Linked DNA regions of Homo sapiens: region 2 is linked to region 1. Evidence: fine-mapped expression QTL. A gene starts in region 1. The other region holds a variant in brackets. All regions are shown on one strand. Distances are between the middles of the regions.

The links.
Region 2: its variant is fine-mapped to the expression of DUS3L in whole blood (INTERVAL, PIP above 0.99).

What each region holds. Positions count from the first base shown.
Region 1 is chr19:5,789,505-5,792,405 of GRCh38, forward strand. It overlaps DUS3L (dihydrouridine synthase 3 like), which reads right to left and starts at 1,659. Exons shown (of 13, transcript NM_020175.3): 1 at 1,540-1,659; 2 at 543-831; 3 at 1-215. The coding sequence starts at 1,637. RefSeq lists an enhancer at 1,382-1,841.
Region 2 is chr19:5,815,878-5,818,778 of GRCh38, forward strand. The region is part of intron 1 of NRTN (neurturin); the gene reads left to right. Among named protein-coding and RNA genes, the nearest start is that of NRTN, 12 kb to the left of the region's middle. The variant AAAAAAC/A (reference allele first, on the strand shown) is at 1,297.

The DNA.
Region 1 (2,901 bases):
GTCCCGCGGGCCGCCAACTCCTCCTGCACCAGGTTCTGTCCCTCGGGCCTCAGGTGGGCCCCAGCGAAGCGGCAGGTCACGCCGTAGGGGCACCGGCCGAAGGTCTCGAAGAGCACGCAGCGGGGGCCCAGGTCGGCCGGCTTGGTCTCCAGGTAGCGCCCCACGTCGTGCAGAAAGCGGCAGCGATCACCGAAGAAACACTTAGCAGCCGACTCCTGCGAGGAAACAGGGAAGCAGTGAGGGAGGACAGGGAGACCCCGGGGCAGCCCAGCAGCCAGGGTTCAAACTCTAGATCACCCCTCCTGGCTCTTGTGTCCCTGAGCAAGTCAGGCACCTCACCGTGCCTCTGCATCTCCATTTATACAATGAGAACAATGACAAGCCCTACAATGTATCCCGAGGAGAATGAAGACGGAATGGCATCAGAGCAAGCTCACTGCTCGTTGCTGAAGGCCCAGGAGCTTTCTAACAATTACCCGCTGCCAGGAAACACACCCTGCTCCTGCCTGCCCCGGCAGGAATGCTCACGTGGCCGCACTTGCCTGGATTAGGGAGGGACACAGCCTGTTCTTGTCGTAGTTCGTGGGCTTCACATGGGGCCGGCCCTTGTTTTGTCCCCGGGCCCTCTTCTGAGTCTGTAGCTGCTCCCCGGGCTCTGCTGCCTCCTCCGTCTGCCCGTCCGCCGTCTGTCCATCCTCCAGTCGGATCCGCTTAGCCTCAGGCTCAGCCAGCTCATTGCCAGCAGGGTCTCCTACCTCGGTTTCCCGGCAAGTCTTCTCCTGCCCTTTGGCTTCCAGGAATTGGTGAAACTGCTCCTTGGTGGTGAGGTATCTGCCGACAGAAAGGGAAAGGAAAACCCTCCGAACATAGTCAATAAACACTGGGGAAAGGAGGCTAGAAACACTTGCACGTCCTTAAATCCTTCTGCTGATGGGGAGCTCACTACTTAAGAACCAGCCAGCTCCCAGCCTGGGAGCCCCTCACGGCCTCAAAAAAGACCTATTTTGTCCCTGGGTCCTCACTGTCCAAAGTGTTGCGCGAAACTATTATCAGGTTCAGTCAAGAACGTCCCTGCGCACGTTAGGCTGCGAAAAACTACAATTCCCAGCATGCCTTGAAGCGGAGTCTAAGCCACCACATTTCCCAGCACGCCTTTCGGCCCTTCAAACACCGCAGGCCCCAGCACGCCCCGCGGCACTCGCTTCAACCCCAAGACCCGCCAGTAACGGCCGCTGGCAGAGCACATGCGCCGTACGTCCATATGCAGGGACTACAATCCCCAGTATGCAGCGCGGGCCTGGCCTCAAATCCCACCTGCCCTAGCATGCACGTGGTGTCCTTCGCGCATGTGACAGGCCCCAACGTGCACGATCTCAGGTACCTCCGCTGACCACCCTGCAGGCGGAAGAACGGCCCGGAATGAAGAGCCGGTGGCTTCTCGCCCTCAGCCGCTGCCTAATCTCCCGGCATGCACAGCTCGGACCGCGCTATGGGTGCCGGAAAAGGCCCTTCAGCTTCCCTCCTGCCCCGGCGACTCACTGACGCTTAATGGGCGCCACTCCTCGTTCCAAAGCTCCGGCTCCCGAGTCGCCACCACCACCATTCTCTAGAGGAGCCTCCGCCGTTCCCTCCGCCATCGGCGCCCCTCACATCCGCTCTGGAGTGTGGCGGGAAGACCTTCCGGGTCACGCGTGTCTTCCCTGATTGTGCTGGGGAAGTGCGCATGCTCATGTCGTTCCAATGACGCCATTGCTCGCTCGTGACGCCACGGGGGCGGTGCCTGCACATGGGTGGAGCCTCAGGTCCTATATAAACTAGAGCCTGGCCAATTGCGAACTGGACTGCAATCAGCTTCTGGACTGAGGAAATTTAACTGTTAGGGTGTTTTGGAGGTTTTTGTCTTTGTTGTTCTGTTGAAACGGTTTCGTTCTGTCGCCCAGGCTGGAGTGCAGCGGTACGATCACGACTCACCGCAGCCTCGTCCTGGGCTCAAGCTATCCTCCCACCTCAGCCTCCCAAGTAGCTGCGTCTACAGACATGCACCAATAGGCCTGGATAATTTTTAAATTTTTTGTAGAGACGAGGTCTTGCCAGGTTGCCCAGGCTGATCTTGAACTCTTGGGCTCAAGCGATTCTCCCACTTTGGCCTCCCAAGCATTGGGATTACAGGCGTGAGCCATGGTTCCCGGCCCCTGCTAGGGTTTTTAAAAATGTAAATTAGGGGTCGGGAGCGGTGGCTCACGCCTGTAATCCCAGCACTTTGGGAAGCCGAAGCGGGCGGATCACTTGAGGTCAGCAGTTTGAGACCAGCCTGGCCAACATGGTGAAACCCCGTCTCCACTAAAAATATAAAAAATTAGCTGGGCGTTGTGGCACATACCTGTAATCCCAGCTACTTGGGAGGCTGAGGCAGGAGAATCGCTTGAACCCGGGAGGTGGAGGTTGCAGTGAGCTGAGATCACGCCATTGCACTCCAGCCTGAGGGACAGAGCGAGACTGTCTCTAAATAAATAAATAAATAAGGCCGGGTGTGGTGGCTCACGCCTGTAATCCCAGCACTTTGGGAGGCCGAGGTGGGCACGTCAGGAGTTCGAGACCAGCCTGGCCAACATGGCGAAACCCCGTCTCTACTAAAAATACAAAAATTAGCCAGGCATGGTGATGGGCGCCTGTAATCCCAGCTACTCAGGAGGCTGACGCAGGAGAATCGCTTGAACCTGGGAGGCGGAGGTTACGGTGAGCCGAGATCGGCCGTTTCACTCCAGCCTGGGCGACAGAGCAAGACTCCATCTCAAAAAAAAAAAAAAAAAGTAAATTACACTACTTTTATGCAGGACATTAGTTTCAACAAATAATTAGTTGAGCATCTGTATGCCAGATGCTGTGCTAGATGCTGGGGGC
Region 2 (2,901 bases), 26 kb after region 1:
GGGATTACAGGTGCCTGTCACCGTGCCTGGCTAATTTTTGTATTTTTAGTAGAGATGGGGTTTTGCCATGTTGGCCAGGCTGGTCTCGAACTCCTGACTTCAAGTGATCCACCCGCCTTGGCCTCTCGAAGTGCTGGGATTACAGGCGTGAGCCACTGTGCCTGGCCGATGGTGTCTTTTAAAAATTTATTATTTTCTATTTTTGTAGAGATGGGGTCTTACTATGTTATCCAGGCTGGTCTCGAACTTCCAGGCTCAGGCGAACTCCCCGCCTCAGCCTCCCAAAGTGCTGGGATTATAGGCGTGAGCCACTGAGCCTGGCCGAGTTTCACCAGTATTTCTGCTAACGTCCTTTCTCTGTCCCAGGGTCCATCCAGGATCCCAGATGACATTTAGCCATCCCCTTTCCTTTGGCCCCTCCAATCTGAGACTCCTCCTCCATCTGTCTTTGTCCTTCATGACCTTGACTCTTTTTGTCTTTTCTCTTCTCATCTTCTTTTCTTTTCTTTTTTCATTTTTGAGACGGAGTCTTGCTCTGTCGTCCAGGCTGGAATGCAGTGGTGCAGTCTCGGCTCGCTGCAACCTCCGCCTCCCAGGTTCAAGCGATTCTCCTGCTTCAGCCTCCTGAGTAGCTGGGATGACAGGCATCTGCCACCATGACTGGCTAATTTTTTTTGTATTTTTAGTAGAGACGGGGTTTCACCATGTTGGTCAGACTGGTCTCAAACTCCTGACCTCAAATGATCTGCCTGCCTTGGCCTCCCAAAGTGCTGGGATTACAGACGTGAGCCACCGTGCCCCGTCTTGTCTTCTTTTCTTTTCTGAGACAGGGTCTCCCTATATTGCCCAGGTTGGTCTCAAACTCCTGGCCTCAAGCAATCCTCCTGCCTTGGCCTCCCAAAGTGCTGGGATCAAAGGCATGAGCCACCTTGCCCAGCCAGTGAGTGTTTTGAATGAAGGTGGAAGCGTCCAAGTGTGTGAGTGTGGTCATGTTTGAGTGTGACTGTGAAAACGCCCTAGCATGTGAGCACGACGTATTCAAATGTGAGTGTGAGAACACACTAGTGGATTCATGCGGTGGTGTTCTGGTGTGTGGATGTGATTGTGTTAGAATATGTGAGCCTGGAAACATCTGAGTATGCATGGGATCATGTTTGGGTGTAAGTATGAAAATACTGGCTGGGTGCAGTGGATCACACCTGGAATCCCAGTGCTTTGGGAGGCTGAGGCGGGAGGATTGCTTGAGGCCAAGAGTTTGAGACCGCCTGAGCAACACAGTGAAACCCAGTTTCTACC[AAAAAAC/A]AAAAACAAAAACAAAAACAAAAATATAGCGAGGCATGGTGGCACACACCTGTGGTCCCAGCTACTTGGGAGGCTGAGGCAGGAGGATCACTTGAGCCCAGGACTCAGAGGTTGCAGTGAGCCGAGGTTGCGCCACTGCACTCCAGCCTGGGCAACAGAGCAAGATTCTATCAAAGAAAGAGAGAGAGAGGGAAGGAAGGAGGGAGGAAAGGAGTGAGGGAGGGAGGGAAAGAGAGAGGGAGAGAGAGAAAGAGAGAAAGGAAGGAAGGAAGGGAAAGAGAGAAAGAGAGGAAGGAAGGAAGGGAAAGAGAGAGAGAAAGGAAGGAAGGGAGGGAGGGAGAGAGAGAGGAAGAAAAAGAAAGAGAAAGGAAATAGGAAGGAAGGAAGGGAGGGAGGGAGGGAGGGAAAGAGAGGAAGGAAGGGAGGGAGAGAGAGAGAAAGAAAAAGAAGAAGGCAGGCAGGCAGGCAGGCAGGCGTGTGAGTGTCATCATGGTCAAATGTGTGATTGTGTTTCAATGCGTGTGAAAAAGTCCAAGTGTGTGTGAGTGTGAGGACAACCCAGGATGTGTGTGTAACCCTGTTTGAGTGTGGAAATGTGAAAACAGTGAATGTGGGAGTGTTTTGTTTTGTTTCGTTTCCAGACGGAGTCTTGCTCTGTCACCAAGGCTGGAGTGCAGTGGTGTGATCTCAGCTCACTGCAACCTCTGCCTCCCGGGTTCAAGCGATTCTCCTGCCTCAGCCTCCCGAGTAGCTGGGATTACAGGCGCACACTGCCACACCCGGCTAATTTTTTTTCTTTTTTGAGATGGAGTCTCGCTCTGTCGCTCAGGCTGGAGTGCAGTGGGGAGATCTCAGCTCACTGCAACCTCCACCTCCCAGGTTCAAGTGAGTCTCCTGCCTCAGCTTCCCGAGTAGCTGAGATTACAGGCGCCCACCACCACACCCGGCTAATTTTTGTATTTTTAGTAGAGACAGGGTTTCACCATGTTGGCCAGGTTGGTCTCGAACTCCTGACCTCAGGTGATCCAACCGCCTCAGCCTCCCAAAGTGCTGGGATTACAGGTGTGAGCCACTGCACCCAGCCAAATGTGGGAGCGTTTGAGCACGCAAGTGTGCTCGAGTGAGAATGCTTGAGCATGTGAGTGTGATCGTGTGTGGGCAGTGTGTGAGTGTGTGAGTGTGTGTATACGAGTATGAAAGAACCTGAGTGTGAGGATATGAGATGGCTGGGTGTGAATGAGTGTGAGTGGGCACACAAGTGTAAGCCTGACAGTGTGCTGTGTGAGATGGGGCATCTCGCTATGTTGCCCAGGCTGGTCTTGAACTCCTGGGCTCTGGCAGCTGTGGGTGCTGGCAGCGTGTTCACCTGTGTACCCCTGTGTGTGTGGCCAGGATGAGGGGTCTCAGGGCACAGATGATAACCTGAGCTAGATTGCAAATGACAGTGGGCACTCCTGTACCTACAAATGTGTGTCTCTATGCAGTTGGACAGGTACAGATGCCTCCCTAGGTTAGGGCCTCCGGGACACAGGAACACGCATTGTGCACACCCAGCCCCCTCCCCGTGCCCTCCGCCACACCCACATCACCCCCACCTGG